3 linked regions of the Homo sapiens genome follow. The protein of the gene in region 3 interacts with the protein of the main gene of each other region in a pairwise test. Each region holds a gene or a part of one and is shown on either strand. Other genes may lie near its edges. The genes, in order: TRIM55, MAGEC1 and MRPL19.

The links.
Region 1: the proteins of MRPL19 (region 3) and TRIM55 interact in a two-hybrid assay, tested with the Homo sapiens proteins (one study listed by BioGRID).
Region 2: the proteins of MRPL19 (region 3) and MAGEC1 interact in a two-hybrid assay, tested with the Homo sapiens proteins (one study listed by BioGRID and IntAct).

Annotation. Positions count from the first base shown.
Region 1 is NC_000008.11:66,122,354-66,130,128, forward strand, and holds the start of TRIM55 (tripartite motif-containing protein 55), read left to right. Parts: upstream 1-4,775; 5' UTR 4,776-4,915; coding exon 4,916-5,083; intron 5,084-5,945; exon of another isoform or gene 5,946-5,950; coding exon 5,951-6,123; intron 6,124-7,775. UniProt on the Homo sapiens protein: E3 ubiquitin ligase that plays an important role in regulating cardiac development and contractility, muscle growth, metabolism, and fiber-type differentiation.
Region 2 is NC_000023.11:141,898,810-141,907,661, reverse strand, and holds the start of MAGEC1 (melanoma-associated antigen C1), read right to left. Parts: upstream 3,769-8,852; 5' UTR 3,684-3,768; intron 2,946-3,683; 5' UTR 2,848-2,945; intron 2,693-2,847; 5' UTR 2,590-2,692; coding exon 2,586-2,589; intron 2,254-2,585; coding exon 1-2,253.
Region 3 is NC_000002.12:75,656,119-75,663,519, forward strand, and holds the end of MRPL19 (large ribosomal subunit protein bL19m), read left to right. Parts: 3' UTR 1-6,088; downstream 6,089-7,401.

The sequences.
Region 1 (7,775 bases), on a different chromosome or scaffold from region 3:
GCTTCGAATCTTCCCGCCTTTGCTTCGAGCTGTCCCACATTTCCAGACCAAGCCAATGTTCATCTTGCATGTGTTGATTGATGTCTCATGTCTCCCTAGAATGTATAAAAACAAGCTGTGCTCTGATCACCTTGGGCACACGTCGTTAGAACCTCCTGAGGCCGTGTCACAGGCATGCATCCTCAACCTTGGCAAAATTAACTTTCTAAATTAACTGAGACCTGTCTCAGATTTTCGGGGTTCACAAGGTAAACCAAAAATATGATTCTAAGCCCCCCAACTCACTGATGGATGCCCCTTCTCGGCCAAGGTCATTCCAAAGTAAACCTAAAAAACTAGTTCAGGCCATTATGGGAAGATCACACATGACTCCTTCTAGCCTCTTCCTTTTAGAATTCAGGCTTAGCTGATCAGTATTAACACTAAAACAGAGATCTTAAGACTGAACAAACAGACTCTTTGTAGCAATAAGATACCAAATTCCAATCTGACTCTAGTATAGCATCGTATGACAGATAGCAGGCCCTGAAAGAAATTGAAGTATTTTACCCCAAAATATATTTCTTTGAAATATTTTGAAATGGCCCTGCAACACTGTCTCTTCTGAGGAAAATCTACATTCTATAGAGAATCCCTTCCTTTTGCAGGTCTTTTCCCTGATCCAGGAGAGATTTAACTAAGATTTAACTTCTATTCTCTCTGAAGCCTGCTACCCGGAAGCTTCTTCTGCACAAGGGCATTGGTCTTCACAACCCCTTATCTAAACCCAGACATATCTTACTATAAATTCCAGGTCCTTAGATAATATCTTAACTCTTTTAACCAACTGCCAATCAGAAAATCTTCAAATCTACCTATGACCTGGAAGCCCCCACTTTGAGCTGTCCCATCTTTCAGACCAAATTAATGTATATCCCCACATATATTGATTGATGTCTTATGTCTCCCTGAAACTTATAAAACTACACTGTAGCCTGACCACCTTGGGCACCTGTTCTCGGGACCTCCTGGGGCTGTCACAGGTCATGGTCCCCATATTTGGCTCAGAGTAAATCTTTTCAAATATTTTACAGAGTTTTACTCTTTTTCATTGACATTCATCAACTGGGCTCTTACTCCTGTGGGATTCATGCTGTTTTCCTGTGTAGCCTCCAGGGACAGTTCTAAGAAAAAGTAAAAGGCAGGGAGCAAGAAAGAACAGAGAGAAAAAAAAAGAGAGAGAAAGGAAGATAGAGATCAGCTCTGTAATCCCAGAGTTTTGGGAGGCCAAGGCAGGAGGATGGCTTGAAATCAGGAGTTCAAGACCAGCCTGGGCAACATAGCAAGACCCTTGTCTCTGCAAAAAATTTAAAAAATTAGCTGGGCATAGTGGTACACGCCTGTAGTACCAGCTACTCAGGAGGCTGAGGTGGGGGGATTGCTTGAGCCCAGGAATTTGAGGTTTCAGTGAGCTATGATTGCGCCACTGCACTCCAGTTTGGGCAACAGAGTGACCCTCTGTCTCTTAAAAGAAAATTCTGTTTCAGAGGTTTTTGTTTTTTTCTACAAATACTGCTAAATTAGGTTATGAACCCCACTCACTTATAGAGGGCAGAACTGAAATCCTCCTAGGTGAAGTCACTTTCCAAGACCACAAAGGGAGGTAGATGCAGAAGCTGGGAGAAAGCCTGACTGTCTCTGACTCACTCTGCAGCCTCTCACTACATCGTCGGTTACTCAGGCTCAGGCATCTGAGTCATCTGTGTGGATTCTACTTTCATAGCAGCCCCAGGGATCATTTCCTCCTTTCCTTCCCCACTGCCATGACCTGTGCCAGGGCTTCGCGACCTCTCACCTGGACTATTGGCAACAGCCTCTGATCTGGTTTTTAGCCAGCCACCTTCATGCTAATCTAACCCAATCATCGCTGAAAGATCAATCTAACCAACCACTGCTCTCACGGAAGTGTCCAGTGAGAAACTTTTAACGACTTCCTGCTGCTTAACTTATTAAGTGTTAAAAACTCTTTAGCACAGTATCCATGGCCAGCCAATGCTTGAGCGCGTGCCTGCACTCCAGCTCAAGCCACCGTGGCTCTGAGATCCCCTGCATGCCTGTGCATGCCCATGTTGCTGCTTCTGTGCCTTCTCTTGGAAAGCCCCAGCCATGCCCCACCTAACTACACGTCCATCCCTCTGAGATCCTCGGTGCAGCAGTTCAAACACTACCCCCACCCATGAAGCCCTTCTGATTCCTCTGACCCTGAAATGCTGTAGCTGTTGTGAAAGGAAAATAAATATTGGTATCCCAAAATCATTAAGCCAAAGGGAAAAGTCAAGCTGGGAACTGCGTCAGGCAAACCTGCCTCCCACGTTATTCCTAAATAAGATAGCTACAAAGATTTAAACGCTACATACCTCCCTTACAATTTGCACACTGGGAAATTCCTTATAGGCCCCAATATCTTTACCCTAAAACAGTTTTGTTGAATTTTACCCTGACAGTGTAAATTGACAGCTTATCTTCACAGGCATGGTACGAAGGACAGAACTCTAAGTCATCTCTCTGCTCACCTGAGACAAATGCATATCTGCTTTCTTCCTCTAATGTAAAAATGCAGACTCACTGAGCTAAAGGAAGACATAAATGACTATTATTCCTCTACCCACCGCCCAGCCCCAACATGTAAATTATGTATTTGGTGAAAGGCTGATCAAAGACTCAGAAGAATGCAACTGTTTGCCTCTTATCTACCCACAACTGAAATTTTTTTTCTCTTTCCCCAATATCCATTCTTTTCCCTTTAAATATTAAAGCCTTCGAAATCTTCTTTGGAGAAAGATGCAGGCCTGCCTCCTGGCACGCGCCCTTAACCTTGACAAAACAAACTTTCTCGATTGAGACCTGTCTCAGGTACTTTTTGGCTTGTACTCTTTATCACATTTTATTTTGTACTATGTTCTGTGTGTGCATGTCTCATCTCCACTCTTATACTGAGCTCCTTGAGGCCAATGACCTATGTCTTGTTCATCTTTCAATACCCAGAGCCTCACACAATGGAGACACACTACACATATCCAATGAATGTATTTTGAAGGAATGAATTCCTTCTAAAAGAAAAGACTCTGCTGCAATGTGCATGATTAGTCTAAGTGCTTTTACTTAGATAGCAAGGTCTTTTGCAGTAGAAACTTAATCTTTCCTAGAAAATATCCCACATATTGTACTCAGACCTCCCCTCCATAGCCCATGAATTGATAAACACAATTAACTGCCTAGGCTGGGTGAACCAAAGTAACTCAGTAAAAAAACTTTACCAGTTCCCGTCCTCCCTGTAGTTGCTAAATAAATATTGAAAGGACTAAGATAATTCTCTAAAGATCCCTGATATGCTTATGAATATATATAACTTATTATTAGTTAATAGAGCTTACTAGATTCTCAATAAGCTCTCCGTGCACACAGCACTAAGACCACACATAACTGACCTACACTTCACTGGTAATTTAATTCACACCAGGGATATGTTAACAAAATGTGTTTATTGCCCAAGGTTTTTAAAATGAAGGAGAAAGAAAGCCGAAATTTATCACATATAAACAGACTTGGATTTCTTTTTTATTTTTGATCTGATTTAAACATTTTTAAATACAATATGTATTGGTTAAACTGTTGCTTCACAAAATCCTGATGAATGTCAGAATCGATGTTTATGACTCAAGAGCAGACCAAGAATATCAGAAATGACCAGAGAAACTATGGTTTAACAAGTCACCTTGGAGGAAGGGGAAATGCAAGGGAGAATAGGTATTTTGGAGGCAGATGAAATGCAGATATGGAAGTAGGACTCCATTTATACTTCAGTTGTCAATGGCACTGGTAACTGTCCCCCAAGGGATGACAAAATAAAATAATAGATCTGCCACCTCCAGGTGCCTGCCAGTTACTACCTCATTACAGATTATTGTTGCAAACTATTATATAATTTAAGAATTTAAATAATCAGTAAAAGACTATCAAATTTTCTTTGTGTTTTTGGGTGTATGTAGGAGGTGGGGCAGTATAGGATGAAAGAGGGCCAAGGAAGAGGAAAGCAATGTGGAAGAGCAAACAGCATACTAGAGTTGTTTTATAATGTAACTTTTTTCTCAAATAATTAGATCATCCACTGGTTTTGAATTTTTATTTATGCATGTATTTATTTATTTATTAGGTGGATACCTTTATGGTGAAGGGATTTGAATTTAGCTTTTAAATTGGAATTTTTCAAAGACCACAACCCCAGCTGACAAAGATGAAATACTTAACATTAAGAAAGTCTTTTTGATGATTGCCTTTGTGAAGCCAGGATAACAATTTTCGAGACATGTTTTGTTCATTTTCACCTAAGAAGGTGCTATTAGGCTACTTTCCGTGACTCAATTCCTACACTCTCAAGACAGGGCTGGCATTAGTTACACAGACTCTGTGCTGCGTTCTGCCCCTTCCTGGAGAAGCCATCGCCAAGTTCTCAGTGAGTGCTCACAGAGGGCATGGTTCAGTGGCTAGGCATGCACATTTGCATTTGTTGTTGACAACTGTCAGCTTCGACCTCCTTCTCCTCACAACCCCGTCTAAATGGGGTTTGTAATCCTCCTTCCCACCCACTCTCTTCACTCCCTGGGGCAAGAATGTTGACTCCTGCTCTCCGTCACCTGTCAGGATCCATCCTCCTGTCACTGGCTTATATGGACACGTCAGCCCACCGTCACGTGACCGCAGGCTGCTAAAAACAGCTCCAGCACCCACTCCAAACCAGGGCCTGAAACAATGTCCTCCACCGAGAGAAACGTAAAGGACACTTGATCACACAATCCCTGGAATAATATCCAGGAAACACTTGCTGGAGCCACTCGCAGCACCCTTCCCTGGCAGCACACTTGGGGACAGCGAGGAGATGAGCGCATCTCTGAATTACAAATCTTTTTCCAAAGAGCAGCAGACCATGGATAACTTAGAGAAGCAACTCATCTGTCCCATCTGCTTAGAGATGTTCACGAAACCTGTGGTGATTCTCCCTTGTCAGCACAACCTGTGTAGGAAATGTGCCAGTGATATTTTCCAGGTAGGTTTGTTTGGAATTTGGTTGAGGGGAGGGGGTGGAAAAGATTCCCTCCTCTTGGAATCAAGTGCTTAACATTGAGGTGAAATCCTTTAAAAAACTTTATAAGGTTGCCGGGCGCTTTGGCTCACGCCTGTAGTCCCAGCACTTTGGGAGGCTGAGGCCAGTGGATCACCTGAGGTCAGGCCTTCGAGACCAGGCTGGCCAACATGGCAAAACCCCATCTCCACTAAAAATACAAAAAAAAAAAAATTAGCTGGGCATGGTGGCGGGCACCTATAATCTCAGGTACTTGGGAGGCTGAGGCAGGAGAATTGCTTGAACCCAGGAGGCGGACATTGCAGCGAGCGGAGATCGTGCCATTGCCCTCCGGCCTGGGCAACAGAGCAAGACTCTGTCTCAAAAAAAGAAAAACAAACAAACAAAAAAACTTTATAAAGTTGCATTTACTTTCAAGAAAAACACGTTTCTTTTAATGATTTGGTTTGTGTCCTCTTTACTCCCAAATCTAGTTTTATTTTAATACTAAGAATCATATTTTTTTTTAAGTCAAACCATTTAATGTGTTTCAAAACTATAAATGAGTAACTGCTGAAGACATGAGTGTGGAGTTTCTGGCTGGAACTTTTGGTTCTGAAAGTGGTGGACGGAAAAGCACCTTACGTGGACAATGGTATATTCGCAGATGACTGTGGATAAGGTCTGACCCTGTGTTTCAGGACCACTTGCTGAGAAAGCCCTGAGGGATGATCTTATGGCAAGCTTAAAGTAGAAGTTCATGTTGTTTGTAGTAGCAGAGAGTGAAAATAAGTCTCAGAGAAGCTGCTTGTGGCATTACCCAATTCCTTTTTTCTTACTTGGCAAGAACAGGCCTCTAACCCGTATTTGCCCACAAGAGGAGGTACCACCATGGCATCAGGGGGCCGATTCCGCTGCCCATCCTGTAGACATGAAGTGGTTTTGGATAGACATGGGGTATATGGACTTCAGAGGAACCTGCTGGTGGAAAATATCATTGACATCTACAAGCAGGAGTCCACCAGGTAACACTCTTCCACTCTTCCATGTGTCAAGCCCATCTGAAACTTGTTTTTGTTTGTTTGTTTTAATGGGTTGCTACGCTGAATGCTTGTTTATCAATCACAGACTGTTTTATGGAAAAATGGTTTTCCAAGTCAGTCCTTCCCAGTGAGACTGAGAGTTGCTCACAGCAGGAGAGAGGGGAGTTGGTGCCCATGCTTTTGTATCAATTTAAGAATGAAGTGACTCATTAACACCAATCCATTCCAGATGGTGATGCTGAAAGAGACATACTGCTGTCCCCCTCCACCTTAAAGCCTGGTATTACATCCATTTTACACATTTTGCACTTCACAGGCACTTTGTAGCTCCAGATCCCTACAAAGCAAAGAAAAAAAAATCTAGTAAATACTTAATAGAAAATTAATAGAAATGGCATCTTCCGAAGTAGCCCAGTTCCTAGTTCAGACAGTCTTGCCTTAAAATTGTTTGGATGATAATAAAAACAAAATCCTCTAACATAGGTTGTCACTGTATTTACTCTAAGGGAAGTCACAAAGCAAGGCAAAACCCTGGCCTTTAGGGACTTAAACTTCAGAGCCATGAGGAAAAAAAAGGGTGAAATTCAGGTTATGTTTCCCTATTCCTTATACTGTATTTACTGCATAGTCAGCATTCACTTGTTGATTGTGAATAACATCGTGATAGCATTATATATCTATCCATTCATTTTTAAAAAATAACAAAAAAGGCTTCTTATTCACCAAACCACATTGGCTATAGAATTCCTTTCCTAGACACAATGCTGCGGGAAGCTTATTCCTAGAAGGCACGGTGTGAAGAGCCCCTTTTCAATTGTGTGCAGGTCAGTCCAGTCCACAAAGCTTGATAGCAATATTGAGACCATCTAGAAATGGCCTCATTGTGATTCCATTAGGGGACACGTATTTATGGAACATCTGCAGAGCTCTAAGAGGCTTGTGCTCTTGGAAGGAAAGCTGTTCTATAAATCTAACATAATTATTATAATTATTATAGCTATTAATTTCCGCTAAAGATCCAAAACTAAATTAGACAGTACCAGGATCTAGATGGGTTTGGGGAAGAATTGCTGATGACATATTGCAGAGATTGCAGCTGGCTGTTTCCCTTGCTTCCAAAGTCTCTTGACAAGAACAAAAGTACTATTGCTGTTGCTGTTACTTTACAGATTTGATCTCATTGTATTTCACTACTTTAAAATACAAATACACACTTGTCTCTTAAAAACTTAACCAGCCAATTAAAAACCAATTAATTATGAGATTGATGCAAAAGTAATTGCGATTTTTGCAATTACTTTTCATGGCCAAAACAGCAATTACTTTGCCACCAACCTAATATTAAGAGAGTTTATATAACAAGAGTTTCAGTGCTAGTCCAGTGTCTTGCACAGAATAGTTGCTCCATAAATCCCAGCTGATTAAGCAATACCACAAATATTCTTACGTAACAAGTTTCAGAGCTAGTACAGTGCTTTGCACAGAATAGTTGCCCCATAAATCCCAGCTGATTAAGCAACACCACAAATATTCTTTCATGTTCTATTTATTGCAATAAATTTATGTTTTGTTACTTGTCACAGTGGGAACTTGAGACATGAAAAAATAGCAATACTTGTTATGAAATCCAGAGA
Region 2 (8,852 bases), on a different chromosome or scaffold from region 3:
AAGAAGTGGAGGAGGAGCAGATACTCACAGGACTCTGGAGAGAAGACTGGAAGTCCTCCCCCTGAGGAGGAAACTGAGGAAAGTGGAGAGGAGAGAGGGAGTCCTCCCACTCAGGAGGACTCTGAGGAAAATGGAGAGAAGACAGGGAGTCCTCTCCCTCAAGAGGACTCTGAGGAATTTGGAGAGGAGACAGGGAATCCTCCCCCTCAGGAGCACTCTCAGGACTCTGGAGAGGAGATTGGGAGTGCATCCCCTCAGGAGGGCTCTGAGGACTATGGAGAGGAGACTGGACAGGCCCCTCAGGAGGACTCTGAGAACTCTCAGGGAAACTCTGGGGAAGACTGGATGGAGTGGAGGAGGAGCAGATGCTCACAGGGCTCTGGAGAGAAGACTGGAATTCCTCCCCCTGAAGAGGACTCTGAGGAAAGTAGAGAGGAGACATGGAGTCCTCCCCCTGAGGAGGGCTCTGAGGAAAGTAGTGAGGAGACAGGGAGTCCTCCCCCTGAGGGCTCTGAGGAAAGTAGTGAGGAGACAGGGAGTCCTCCCCCTGAGGAGGGCTCTGAGGAAAGTAGTGAGGAGATAGGGAGTCCTCCCCCTGAGGAGGGCTCTGAGGAAAGTAGTGAGGAGACAGGGAGTCCTCCCACTCAGGAAGACTTGGAACAATCTGGAGAGGAGAATGGGTATTCTCCCCTTCAGGAGGACTCTGAGGAATCTGGAGAGGAGACTGGGGAAAACCCTCAAAAGTACTTTGAGTACACTCAGGGGAACTCTGGAAAAGACTCAATAAAGTGGAGGAGGAGGAGGAGGAGCTCACAGGAATCTGGAGAGGAGACTGGGGAAAACCCTCAAAAGTACTGTGAGTTCTCTCAGGGGAACTCTGGAAAAGACTCAATAAAGTGTAGGAGAAAGAGGAGCTCACAGGAATCTGGAGAGGAGACTGGGGAAAACCCTCAAAAGCACTTTGAGCACTCTCAGGAGAACTCTGTAAAATACTCAATAAAGTAGAGGAGAAGGAGGAGGTCATAGGAATCTGGAGAGGAGACTGGGGAAAACCCTCAAAAGTACTGTGAGTTCTCTCAGGGGAACTCTGGAAAAGACTCAGTAAAGTGGAGGAGAAGGAGGGGCTCCCAGGAATCTGGAGAGGAGACTGGGGAAAACCCTCAAAAGTACTTTGAGCACTCTCAGGAGAACTCTGGAAAATACTCAATAAAGTAGAGGAGAAGGAGGAGGTCATAGGAATCTGGAGAAGAGACTGGGGAAAACCCTCAAAAGTACTGTGAGTTCTCTCAGGGGAACTCTGGAAAAGACTCAATAAAGTGGAGGAGGAGGAGGAGCTCACAGGAATCTGGAGAGGAGACTGGGGAAAACCCTCAAAAGTACTCTGAGTTCTCTCAGGGGAACTCTGGAAAAGACTCACTAAAGTGGAGGAGAAGGAGGGGCTCACAGGAATCTGGAGAGAAGACTGGGCAAAACCCTCAAAAGTACTCTGAGTTCTCTCAGAGAAACTCTGGAAAAGACTCAGTAAAGTGGAGGAGGAGGAGGGGCTCACAGGAATCTGGAGAGGAGACTGGGCAAAACCCTCAAAAGTACTCTGAGTTCTCTCAGGGGAACTCTGGAAAATACTCAATAAAGTGGAGGAGAAGGAGCGGCTCACAGGAATCTGGAGTGGAGACTGGGGAAAACCCTCAAAAGGACTTTGAGTACTCTCAGGGGAACTCTGGAAAATACTCACTAAAGTGGAGGAGGAGGCGGCGCTCACAGGAATCTGGAGAACAGACTGGGGAAAACCCTCAAAAGGACTTTGAGTACTCTCAGGGGAACTCTGGAAAATACTCAATAAAGCAGAGGAGAAGAAGGAACTCGCAGGATTCTGCAGAGGAGACTGGACATCCTCACCCTCAGGAGGGCTCTGAGAAATCTCTAGAGGAGACAGGGAGTCCTTCCCCTCAGGAGAACTCTGAGAATTCTGGAGAGGAGACTGGGTGTCGTCGCCCTCAGGAGAACTCTGGGGAATCTGGAGAGGAGACTGGGAGTCCTTCCCCTCAGGAGGTCTCTGGAGAGGATCCGAGGAGTCCTCCCCCTCAGAACGACTCTGAGGACTCTGGAGAGGATACAGGGTGTCGTCGCTCTCAGGAGAACTCTGGGGAATCTGGAGAGGAGACTGGGAGTCCTCCCCCTCAGGACAACTCTGAGGACTCTCAGAGGAACTCTGGAGAAGACTCGGCATCCCAGCAGTAGGCATATCCTTGTCCCCTGGAGAACGCAGAAGCAGAGAGGAGGATGAGGATGAGAAAGAAAAACAGGAGGAGGACGAGGGGAATAAAAAGTGGAAAGAGGAAGAGAAAATGGAGGAAGCTTCCTCCTCTTCCTCATCTGGGGGATCCTCTGCATCTACCAACTCCAGTATGAAAATTGCCTTCTGGAAGCCTTGCTCAAAGCTGGGGCGTGGAAGGTTTAGAAAGAGAGGCATGATGAATATTGTTCAGGAGCAGCAGGTAAACGTGTGAACACGAATAGGTATGATGGGATCCCACAGGACTGAGGGAGAGAGGGACAGTGCCAGTGGCCTCAGCTGAGAAACTCACCCATGATGGCTCTGACAAAGGCCGGCTTACAGCTCTTCTTCTCTTAAGGTGGTGCTCTAGGGCCTCACAGGTCGCCTGTCTTCCTAGGGGGTTTGTCTTCTGGGAACCTGTAGAAGGACGCGAGAAAGCACCTCGGGGCACAGCTGGCAGGCAGAGCCTGAGGCACCAGGAATGACAGTGGGTGGCTACAGGCCGGGTGCTGCCAGGTCTGCCCTGTTTCTGGGGGTAGGGCCCTTGGTACACAGTCAGGTCGTGCACTCACCTTGACTCCTGGCACTGCCTGGGCCTCCTCTGCTGTGGTGCTTTTAGGATGTATGTGTCCCTCACACCCAGGTCTTCAACTCCTGCTTTCTGGAGCACCTGCAAGAGGAAGGGAGGGAGCCCCTCCAGCTAAGACGGCAGCTGGGGCTGGCCAGACTCCCAGAGTCCCACAATTCTGAGGTTCGTGACCCCCTCAGAATTCAATTAGCATTGTCACATTTTCTCAGACAGGGCCAGGCCCCCACCACTCTGCTGGCCTGAGGAAAAACCTCAGGAAAACTCCACATCACTGAGAGCAGTGGGAGGTAGTGAGGTGGCAGCCACCTCCCAGCACTCTACCACGGGGGCGGTCCCTGTGGCCTCACGTCTGTTCTGACGCACATGTGACCCCTCAGTCCTCACTCTTGTTCCCAGCAGGGCCTGGGAATCTTCCCTCTGCCAACTGGAGGCAGCTCCCCATGCTGACTTGCCATGGGACCCCCAGAACAAGGCCTCCTCCTCCCCCTCCCCTACACCCCTCACCCAGCAGTGAGAGGGTGGCCGCTCAGCCTCAGCCACCTGGGGAGCTCTATGGGGGCTGATTTGAGGAGCAGGGTGGGAATCTCTGGGAATCTGTCCTCTGAGGTGGGGGTTCCCCCGGTCCTCCTCAATGCCTTCCTATTTATTCTCTAGAGGGCCGGCATTTCCTCCCTTCTTCTGCCGTGAGGACACGTCCCTCAGCCCTCGGCTACCATCTTCGTTTCCGCCACCTACAAGTGCCACCGCAGGGATAGGGCAGGCCAGGGCTGCTTCTCTCTGTGGTGGGGTTGTCCCTCACTTCTCCCTCGGGGCCCTCACCTTGAAGACTGGATAGGTCTATAAGTCTCCTCCCTCCGCTGACCTGAGACGATCCTCGTCACAAAATGCCTCAGGTCCTTCAGACTCCCAAGATGGCCGCCGGGAAAGCACATCCGGCAAAGCACATCCGGGAACTCTGTCAGGGTTGATCAGGGCTGACAGCCCGGATAGCGTGGGGCGGGGCCTCCTCTCAGAGGAGGAAGGCGCCCCCCCCCCGCCGCCCGCTTGTCAGCCTCCTTTCCATCCCTTCCTTCCCACCTCCAGGATGTGCTCCAAACCTTTCTGCTCACTCCCTAAGCCCTGCTGACCTCTTCCCTCCCACCTCCCCAGTCCTTGACACTCACACCCCACCTTTTTCCAGGGCTGACAGCAGGGAGTGGCAGGGTGCAGCCTGTGCCTCCCCCGTGTTCGGAGGTCACTGTCCTTCGACAGAGTTCTCTTCTTGTTGAGTGGCCAGCCCTGGGGCTACTCCCTCTGTTTAACTGAAGCTGCCCTCCTCAGAGAAAATCTCCCCTCTGGCTGACTCCCAAAATGGAAGTCAGAAATTTGTAAATCTGGGGACCCTGATGGGCTCCTCCATGGCTGGCAGCAGGCACAGGGACAGGACAGGCAGCACTACCAGTCATGGGTGTTCCCTTCCTGCCTTCCTGAGAGGCTGTTCCTGGACTCCTGACATTGTCTGGGCTCCCTGCCTCTATGCATCTGAGTCTTTCACCTCCGAATAAGCCCCTCCCATCCTTGAGACCTGCAAGGTGCAAGAGAGGTAGAATCACATCCATCCACAGTGGGGTATGGCCTCCCAGACTCCAGGTAGGGCTCCACTGCCCTCCGTCTGAAATGGCATGGGAGGGACCCTCAGTCTTCCTCAACCTATTATTCCTGATACGGCCTCCACTCCCTCCCTCTTCTCTCCAGGGACTGTTTTTCAGATCAAGGTTCCCATTTCCATGAACCCCCCAAGAGGGACTGGAGCACGCTAGCGTCTCTCCCTAATGGCCCTGCCCAAGGCCTCCTAGCAGTGAAAACGGGCAGGTTTTTGGGGATCCTCCTGTGTCCGTGGTGGGGTAGCTCACCAGTCCATCCTCTGTATCAGCCTGGGGATGCCTAGAAGGCCCCCCTCCTGATCTTCCGCTCTCATGATCTGAAGTGAGACTCACCTAAGCACAGCCTTCTCCTCTTTCTACACGCTAAGACGTCAGGGGACAGCACTGTGGGTCAACATGCCCCTGGGCCTCCCAGGGATGACAACAGGTGGGGAGCTGGTTTCTGTGGATCCTCTTCTTTGTGGGCAGGAGGTTTCTGCAGTTTTCCCTCAGAGGCCTCATCTGACTACTGGCTGGTCCTGGGTCTTCCTATCCTTCCCAAGATGACAGTATGACACAGGGAAAAAAGTAATGTGACTTTACCCTGAAGAAAACTGACAAACACTAGGTCACCATGGTGATCAAAGTAACATCATCAGTGACAAATTGTGTTGGTATTATGTGCCGTCGGTATGATATGATAAGAATGGCACTTCACTTCTCTGTTCATCTTCCGAGAAAACGTAACCTACATCAAATCATAAAAAATAATCACTTAATTCCCAATCAAAGGCTATTTTACAAAATACCTGACCATACACCTCCAAACTGTCAATGTTTTCAAAATCAAGAGAAGTCTCAGTGAACTGGCACAGCCAAAGGGCATTTAAAGAGACATGATGAACAAGTGTAATGGCGTATCCTCAGGGTATCTTGGGACAGAAAATAGACTTTCGTGACAAGGAAATAAATGTGAATAAAGTATGTTTATTAATAAACAAAGGATGTTTGCATAGGAATAGTACCAGCTCTTCTTTAATAACCACATTTTAACTTCCTTGCCTCTGAGATAATCCCGTCTCCAAATAATGCCACATGTTAATTTCAACATAAGACTTCAGTGGGGGTGCAATTGAATCTATAATAGTGGAAAGGGAAGTGGCAGACCTATATGTATATTATTACCCATGTGTAGTTATAAACACATACATAAGCTCATATATGTATAAATTTTACTTTAAAAACCACATCAATCTTCTCAAAATTCTAAATCAGCTTTTAAATTTAAACACCACACGGTTAATTGTGGAAACTTCTGAATAGGGGGCTGAATTTTGGAGGAACTTTCCAAAAGGGAGAATTGTGATTTCTACCTCTTTTTTTAAGTTTTTGCAACAACAATATATGCAGTATTTATTTGTAAGGAAAGTATTGAAATAAGCCTAAGAAAAGGATGAGGAGCAGTCCAGGAGGCAGATAAAATAACAGTAAGCTCTTGGAACAACAACAAAAAAATCCTTCATTTTTACATGACTCAACACGTTTACTTTTTTGTACATAAATTCTGAATTTAGTTGGCAGGGTATTATGGGCTGAATTTTGAATCTCCCCCAAAATTCATATATCCGTCTTAAAACCCAGTATCCCAGAATGTGACTGTATTTGAAGATAGAAACTTTAAAGAGGTAATTAAGGTAAAATGAGGTCTTAAGGTTAGGCTCATATTCAGTATGACAGGTGTCCTCATAAAAGAGCAGATTAAGATACAGACACACAGACCAAGGAAAAACCATGTAAGAATTTAGTGAGAAAGTGGCCATCAGCAAGCCACGGAGAGGCCAGGGAAGAAATCAAACTGGCCCACATCTTGATCTTAGATATTTAGCCTCCAGAAATGGGAGAAAATTCATTTGTATTGTTTAAGTCACCCCGTCTGTGGTATTCTGTTATGGTATAAGAAACTAATCCACGGCGGGTCCTGGCTTTCACCTCAGCCAGGAATCCAAGCTGCTGTCACCTTATAGCTCCACGTCACAACAGATGTTAAGTGCTGAACGGAAATGAAAGCATGGGAATGATACACTGGCTTCTGTCTAACTACAAATGAACCCGCCAGGAAGGCGAGCTAGACAAGATGGAGATGGGCACTTGCAATCTCTCCCATATGTTATTACGGTGCTCAATGAAAAGCAACTATTATAATTGATGACAGTAAGTGCCTTCATTGCTTGGAATTGTTTCTGGGAATGTCCTCGTAGCCTTGAAATCTTCCAACTTTTTCTTGCACCTACGAGGTGACTGGTGGTTTCAAATTCAGGATTACATCCAGTTTTAAAACAATTCTGTAAGTCTTGGCAGGGAGGGTCTACGTTATTCCCTCAACAGCACTTGGCACTGTCCTTTTTAATAACCTGTATAATTTCTTTAGGCTGAGAATTCTGTCATATTTTTCGTGTACGGTAAATAATCTACCCTGTGAGCCTCTGCTACCCTCCATATGACGGAACATACCTGAACAGCTATACATGGGCCTGTGGCTCACTGCAAGCCAGGATTTTCTTGTGGGGCAGGTACACAGACAAGAGAGAGTGGAAGGATATTTAACTACTGTTTATTTCTCATCAAAACCAGCATGTCCCCCAAAGTATCCTTGTCACCTCCTAAGCAGTCTTCAAGATATTGTTTTGTGTTTTTTAGAAATTCACCTTCTTGTGGATCATTTACAAAGTGACGTCTATAGCCTTTCCTCATCTACAAAGTTTATGAAGGAAAGATTGGCATTTGATCATCTACAAAAGCCTGTTCATCTCTGTTTTCAGTGCCCTGTTTCAAATAATGCATCTCATTAAAATCATACTACAAGTATCAAATATTAGAAAGATTTCAAATAGGCTATTTCTGACCTTAGGATTACATCCCTAAAACCCATATATTATCTGGCAAATCAGATTTTACTCTGCAGCCTGTTTGGTAATACGTTGAGAGTGTGTTGAAGATGCCCAGCCTAGGTATGGAAATGTCACTATCCAAAGCGAATAGTCACATCGAAAGGCCATTATCATAGAGGAACCTGGGGGAGAGATGGATGAGTCAGGGAACTTCTGCAGGCAGTAGGAATGGTCTATCTCAGGGGAAGGCCAGTTGCTTCTAGGTTCTTGCGCTGAGAGTTCAGCAGCCACCTCCAGGCACTCTACACCAGGAGAAATAGGGGCTAGTCTCACATCTATTCTGGTGCACATGTGACTCCTCAGTCCTCACACTTCAGAGGGTGAGACCGTAATGAGAAGTTAGTCAGCAGGCCAGGTTCCAGAGTTGCACAAGAGACCACACAGGGGAGATCAAAAGGAGCTGGGGGGAGCTGCAATGGGAAAAATTGTTGGGCATGGACAAATCTGTCAGCACCTGGACATTCAGCTCTCAAGAAACCTAGGGCTCAGAACAAGAGGACTTTAGGTAAAGAAAGCCAATAATGTTCCCCGAAGTGTATTTTATTCCCATTTGACCTTCCATCTTGTGGCCTAACTTAATACCTTAGCCACACAGTTCATCTTTATTTCACCTCAGAGACATTAACAAGTGTGAAAAGAAGTGACTTAACAGGCAAAGGCCTTCCTCAGGCTGGGAGGAGTGGGGACAGTGTGGGCCTAAATGAATTCAGACCAGGGCTCAAGTCAAAACCTTGTCACATTCTAGCTATGTGGTCTTGGGAATTTATCAAGCATTATGAGCCTTGGGTTCTTCACCTGCAAAATGAGTTTGATAAGCCCTGTCTTATAGAATTGCTGGAGTGTATGTAATGTGAGTAAAACACCTGCCAGAGTGCCTGGCATATGTTGGAATTTTAATAAATGGCAGTTGTTATCAATGATTACCACACCAAAGGTTACCGTCTTTTGTGAAATATTCAGCTCTTAGTTTTGTTATCCATAACATCTCAGAGAATATGTAGGTGAATGCGTCATGGAATACCAGCTTAACCAAAACTTTGGCTTCATAAATAAAACCCAGTACATTTTTTTCTGAAACGGTATATTGTATAATTTGGAAAAGGCAAGGCATCTTCAGCTAGAATGCAACTCAAAGATGCTAGAATTTGAGTCAAACACCAACTCCTTTACACCTTGCCTTTTGCTCATCCTTCCAAACCACTATTTTCATTTGTCCTCCAGTAAAAATCTAGCCCTTGCTTACAGTTGCCCACATTACAATTGAAATAACCTAATTAAATGTCTTTCAATGGAGTAGGCTCTGGTTCTCCCAGGCCAGTCAAATAAGTGCCAGCCTAGAGGCTTCTGAGCAACACTTCAAGGGATTATCGCCCTATGTCTCAGGAAAGCCTTGCAGATGTTGGGTATCAATCACCTAG
Region 3 (7,401 bases):
GGTTAGAGGAAGTAAACTGTTTTTTGATGCTCACAGCATGATGAATCAAACTCTGTATCTTAGGATTAGGTTAAAACAATACCTTTGGTATGATATGAGTGTTGTTGCTGATCCATGCAGCATGGATTGGAAAGCTGGGGTATAAGCACACATGCTAAAGAAAAACATGTAATTTGGTCCATACTCACCTGGATATACTGTTCCTCAGGTTAAAAAATACAGTACTATCCTAAATCTTGAAGGCAACTCTCAGCCTATCCATTGAGTTACCTTCAGATCTGCCCTCTGGTTCCTAGCTGTCTTGGGACTAACTTCTTTCCTGCGCTCAGCTGTTTTCTGGATTCCATGTTTTCCATTTTATTGAGTACTAACTTGTTTTGCTGCAGCACATCCTTTGGTAGCTTCTAGAGGAAGTTTGTGTGGAGGTAAAATTTTTGAGACCTTGCATGTCTCATGTTTGATTGATACTTTATACGTTTAGGTAGGAGGTAATTTTCCTTCAGGACTTTAAAAATATTGTTGCTCCATTTTCTTTGTTTCTATTGTTGTATTGAGAAATCCAATGCCATTTTGATTTCCCCATCATAAATTTCATGATGATGTGTCTTGGTGTGGGTCTATATTTATCCATTGTATTGGGTTTTAGGTGAACCCTTCCAGATAGTAACTCATTTCTGTCAGTTCTGGGAAACACTTAGCATTGGTTGATGATTTATTCTCTGCTGCTTTGTTCTCCCAACTATTATTTGGATGTTGGATATCCAGCACTGGGTATCTATTTTCTTACCTCCCTCCCTTGACCCCAGTCTCTGTTTTTTAGCTCTTTAGCTCAATCTTCCAACTCTTTGCTATTGTATTTTAAAATCTTAAGACCCCTTCTTGATTTGTAGAAGTTCCTTTTCTTACAACCAAAAAGCCTTTATCTATGGATTTGTTCACAGATAAGGGGTATTCAATATAGTGTATTTTTTTTTCATTTAAAATTGTTTGCGCATCTATTTCCTCCAAATTTCTTTCTGTATTTATTTTTTGTTGTCTATATTTCAGACTTTTCCAGGATATCTGATAATCTTTGGCTGTCTTCTTATGGTTGAAAGAGGGACTAAAAAGCTTGGAAAGCCTTTGGGTTGTGGGAAGGGGCTGTCTTTAGGATTATCTGAATGGGCTTTTTTGGGAGTCCCCTCCTCCACATGAATATTTTGGTTTTGTCAGATTCCCTAGAATAGAGGCTTCCAATCTCCTTCCTGGAGGGGTCTGTCCAGGAAGGAGATTGTCTAGGGGTCTGTCAGACAGCAGCTTTCAGCTACTTCCTTGATCTTTTTCACTAATGATTATATAGTCATCTAACTACTGTCAACAAGTAATAGATATCCTATCCTTCACTTGTTTAGATTATTTGCTGAGATAACCTCTCAAAAGAACCTCTCAAAATAAAAGGTTAACAAGAGCCTATATCTTATATTTTTCTTCTCTTTATCTTGTTAGAAGATAGCTATTAAAACCTGTTCTTTTTCTGTCTTGATAAACACACTTCAATCTTGGTAGAATGGTAGATGGGACAGTATATTTTAGGACCTAAAGCTCTGCAAATGTATGATCAGCTTGTAAGTACAGGTGCTCAAAAACATGTAAACAATCATGCTTTTTACTCTGTAGGAATATCTTTAAAATTCTTGTGAATTTTTCCCCAGAAGTAAAGCAAATCTTCCCCCAGAAATAAAATTAAATGTGCATAATCTAAAGCTTTTTTTTTTTATTGTGGTAGGATATATATATAAAACATAATTTGCCATTGTAAACATTTTAAATTTACAAGTCAGAGGCATTAATTACATCACAATGTTGTGAAATTATTACTACTATTTCCAAAATTTTCTCATCACCCCAAACTGAAACTCTGTAACTGTTGAGCAATAACCTCATTCCTGTATCTCTCCCAACCCCAGGTAACCTCAAATCTTTCTTTTTATCTTTGAGACAAGGTCTCATTCTATCACTCAGGTAGGAGTGCAGTGGTGTGATCATAGCTCATTGCAGCCTCAAAATCCTGGGCTCAAGCAATCCTCCTTGAGTAGCTAAGACTATAGGCACACATTAACTGCGCCTGGCTGATTTTGTTTTTTGTAGAGATGTGGTCTTGCTATGTTTCCCATGCTGGTCTTGAGTTCCTGGCCTCAAGCAGTCCTTAAGATTCATCCATGTTGTGGCATGTGTCAGAATTTCATTTGTTTTTATGACTAAATAATATTCCATTGTATGTATATACATTTTGTTCATCCATCTTCTGATGAACACTGGGATATGTCTACCTTTTGGCTATTGTGAATAATGCTGCAGTAAACATTGACATAACAAGTATGTATTTGATTGCCTGTTTCTAAGTTCTTTTGGGTATACATCTTGAGTAGAATTGCTAGATAATGTCATGTTTTATTTCTCTTGTGATTTCTTCTTCGATCCCCTGGTTGAGTGTGTTAATTTCTACATGTTTATGAATTTCCCACTGTTTTTTTGTTATTGATTTCCAAGTTCATTCCATTGTGATTAGAGAAGATACTTAGTATGATTTTAATGTTTTTGAGAATTGGTGTGTGGCCTGATAGATGGTCTGTCCTGGAGAATGTTCCTCATACACTTGAGCAAAATATTTATCATGCTATTGTTGACTGTAGTTTTCTATATGTCTCTTAGGTCAAGGTGGTTTACAATGTGTTAAGGTTCTCTTTTTTTAAAAAAATTTTTGCACAGAGTATCTTTTTCTATGTGTTCCATGTATTTGTGTCTTTGGAGCTATAGTCTCTTGTAGACAGCATATCACTATCTTGTTTTGTTTTGTTTTTTCTGTCCATTCTGCCAATTTCTGCCTTTTGATTGGAAAATTTAATCCATTTGCATTTAAAGTAATTAAGGAAGGACTTTCTTCTACCATTTAACACTTCTTCTATATGTCATATACTTTTTTGGCCCCTCATTTCCTCTTTATGGCCTTCTTTTCTGTTTTTTTGTAGTGAACTAGTCTGATTCTCTTTCCACTCCCCTTTGTGTATATTTGTTAGATGTTTTATTTGTGGTTGCTATGGGGATTATAGTTAACATCCTACACTTAAAACAATCTAATTTAAACTGATACCAATTTACCTTCAATAGCATACAAAATCTCTACTCCTGTAAAGCTCTGCCCCTGCCCCCCTTATGTTATTGATGGCACAAATTGCCTAATAAATAATTTATAGTTATTTGTATGAGTTTGTCTTTTAAATCATTTAGGAAATAAAAAGTGGAGTTAGAAAACAGTATGATAGTAATACTGACTTTTATATTTGTCAATATATTTATCTTATTTTGGATCCTTATTTCATTATATAGATTTGAGTTACTGTCTAGTGCCCTTCCATTTCGGCCCAAAGGATTCCCTTATGCATTTCTTGCAGGGCAAGTCTAATTGTAATAAACTCCCTCAGCTTTTGTTTTATCTGAGAATGTCTTGATTTCTCCCTTATTTTTGATGGATAATTTTGCCAGATACATGAATTTTTGGTAACAGTATTTTTCTTTCAGCACTTTAAATATGTCATCCCACTACCTTCTGACTTCATGGTTTCTCATGAGATATTAGATGTTATAAAATTTGAGGATTCCTCATTCTTGATGAGTCAGTTCTGTCTTATTGCTTTTCGGATTTGCTCAGCTTTTGTCTTTTGACAGTTTGATTATAACGCGGCTCAGTGTGGGTCTCTGAGTTTATCCCACTTAGAGTTTGTTGAGTTTCTTGGAGTCATAGATTTATGTCTTTTATCAAATTTTGGACATATTTGGCTATTATTTCTTCAATTTTTTTCACTGCTTCTTTCTTTTCCTTCTGAAATATTCTTAATGTATATGTTGGTCTGTTTGATGCTGTCTCACCAGTTTCTTAGGCTGTGTTCTCTTTTGTTCCTCAGACTTGATTATTGCAGTTGCCCTTCTTTTTATTTTTTTCAAGTTTGTTGATTCTTCTCCCTGTTCAGATCAACTGTTGAACTCCTCTAGTGAATTTATTTCAGTTACTGTACTTTTCAGCTCCAAGATTTATCTTTGGTTCCTTTTTATAACGTCTGTGTCTTTATTGATATTCTCATTTTGTTCATATGTCTCTTTCTTCCTTTAGTTCTTTGTCCATGTTTTCCTTTAGCTCTTTGGGCTTATTTAAGACAATTGTTTAAAGTCTTTGCATAGTAAGTCCAATGTCTGTGTTTCTTCAGGGATGGTTTTCATTATTTTGTTTTCAATGAGCCATACTTTCCTGTGTCTTTGTATGCTGTCTTTTTGTTGTTGAAAACTGTATGTTTGAACATCATAACGTGGTGGCCCTGAAAATCAGATATTCCCCCCTTCCTGAGAGTTAGTTTTATTTTTATTATTGAAGATTGTAGCAGTCTATTGCTACATGTGCAGTCATTTCCAAACTATTTTTGCAAAGACTGTATTCCTTCTGTGTGTCATCACTGAAGTCTCTGTTCCTTAGTTTGTGTTTAATAGTTTGACATAGATTTCCTTGAAAGGAGTTAAAACTAGCAGAAAAATCTCTCTCCCAGTCTTTCCAGTCTTTGTAGATTGGTTCTGTGCTGGGCTTTTCCATTAATACTTAGCCAGGCTTGTACTGAGCCTAACAATCAGGCCCAAAAGCGTAGGGTCTTTGCAGATCTTGTCTGAGCATGCTTCTTGCTGTGTATGCACGTAGTTTTCTAAATCTCCCTGTATGTGCTGTTGAATATTCTAATTTCCCAAAGAAACTCCTTTGCAGCTTTTTCTCACAGAACATAGATGGTTTTTTGGATATCTTGACCATAGTCTTTCGACCCAGGTGTTTGCGGTTGTTAGTTCACCTTACACTTTTTTCAAGCATTGCCTACTGCTTACGATGAGTGCTCTGTCAATCCTTTAAGTAGCCCCAGACAGGCTACCAGAGACTTAAACAAGAATTTGTAAGTTCTGCTCAGCTTCCTCTAGAAATGGGGATCAGGGTCCAAGACAGAATGCAGTTGCTGATTTCAAGACTGCTGCAACACCAGGGAGCTTGTGGGGGAAGGGCAAGCAGAAATGTCACAAAGCTTTCTTGCCATTTTAAAGTTGCCTGTTCTTGACTCAGCATTTGCTTCATTGCTATAAACTTTTTACTGTTTTTCAGAGTTCTGATAAAATTGGCTATGCCTGTTCCTGCTTTAAAAAATATATATATATTTTTTAGGGATTGGGGTCTCACTATACTGACCAGGCTGGTCTTGAACTTCTGGCCTCAAGCCATCCTCTCATTTCAGCTTCCCAAAGTGCTGCAATTACACGCGTGAACCACCACACCCAGCCCCTGCTTGTTTTTCAATGTGCCTACTCCACCATGTTGCTCAAGTATGTATATTTTCTAAACTACCTTGTAGTGTTGTGATGGGAAATAAATCCCTGAGCCTTTTGAATAACTCAGAGAGATCAAAAACTTAGTTTATCCTATTCGAAGGATTAGAAAAATGATATATCTTTCACTTTTTCAGGGATAGGCTCCTCATTAGAAGGCTCCTATGTGCCGATGCTGTACAAGACATTTCATTTCTCTTAATGTTTACAACAAGCTTGTTGCCAAGGCTGATCTTGAACTCCTGGCCTCAAACGATCCTCCCAGCTCAGTCTCACAAAGTGTTGGGATGTCTGGCCAACTAATGACTATCTTAACTCTTGTGTTTCAATGTTTATGCCTTCTTTTATCTTGACTGATTGTATGACTATGTCTTCTAGAACAATGTTGAACAGAAATGGTGAGAGCAGACATCCTTGCTTTAATATTTCACCATTATATATGATGTTAGGTATAGATTTTTCTCACAGATGCCTTTTATCAGATTGAGGAATTTATATTCCTACTTTGCCGAAAGGTTTTTGTAGTATGAGGGGGTGCTGAATTTTGTCAAACACTTTTTCGGTAATAATTGAGATGATTGGTTCTGCAGTCATCGAGATGTGGATTTTCTCCTTTATTCTGTTCGTGAGTGATTACACTGGTTGACTAATGTTAAAACAACCTTACTTTCCAGGAATAAACCCTATTATCTTTTTTATACATTGCTGGATTTGATTTGCTAATTATTTTAAGGACTTTTATTTCTACATTCATGATAGATACTGCTGGTATTTTCTCATGATGTCTTTTGCAGGATTTGTATCATATATGGCATTTCTGAGGTATACCTAAGTATCATTTATTCAAGGACCTAAGAAATGGAAAAATCAATTGAGGTGATTTTTCCATCATGAAAAAAATTTCTTTAAAGTCATCTGTCTGATTCTGTAAAAATTTCACATTCTTTATGTGAACAAAAAGCTGAAAGAAATTCAGGGAAAGAATTAAGATGTGATATCAATTGCCAACCCAATGTTTTGTTCTTGCTAGTTGTGTTCCCCCTCCTTATTCCATCCATTTCATAGTAATAAGAAAAAAAAGAATTTTACATTGAGATTTAGGTAAATTTTTGAATTACAGTATATGATAAAAACCTTAACGTTCAAACTCCAGGTATAATGAAATTTAATTGAAAATTACTATAGCAGTTTAAGTCAATTTGTAGTTTTGAAAGCAGTTTTAATATTTTATCTTCCACAAAAAGGTAGGAAAGTTTCTGTGCTGAACTTAAATATATAAAGGAACACGTCCAACATATTTAGTTAAAAATCCAAAAGTCAGAGGATAATTTCCAAATGTGTACTTAAATAGAAAAAAATTACAAATTTCATGTGCAATAAAGTGTCTGCCACTTACGTAAAAAAAAAAAAAAAACCCAAAACTATGTACACATAGAAACACGTAACATTTTTGTAAATAGAGAAAAGGTCTAAAAGGATAACATTAAAATGAAAACAGCAGTTATCTCTGGGGACAGCGGTTGTGTGGAAATGCTAACTGCTTTTCAACAATAGTTTGCATTTTCTAGATGAGATTCTATCCTTGTATAATTTTGTTACTAATATAAACATCAAAAAATTCTTCATACCAGTGAATCACAAGTCCTCACTGCAACAGACATAACAAATCCAACTCCTAAAATAAATTATATGTAGTTTTGAAGGTAGAGGTGACATAAAAGTAGGCTGTATATTCAAATCCTACAATATATTCAATTTTTTCCAATTATCTTTTGAACAACAATTTGCAAAATATATTTACAGTTTCCCTTAAGTTATTTAATAAGTAGACTTAGAAAAATTACTAGTAAACTAACATTTTTGGAAAATTTTCTTAATTTCTTTTGATTAAATTATCTTGCCTCTGTTTTATTAGACAAATATTTTATCAGAAAATGAATCACATGTTGTGAGTATTTAAAATATCTGTTTCCTTCTTAGTCCTACCACCAATGACAAAAAAACAAAATAGTA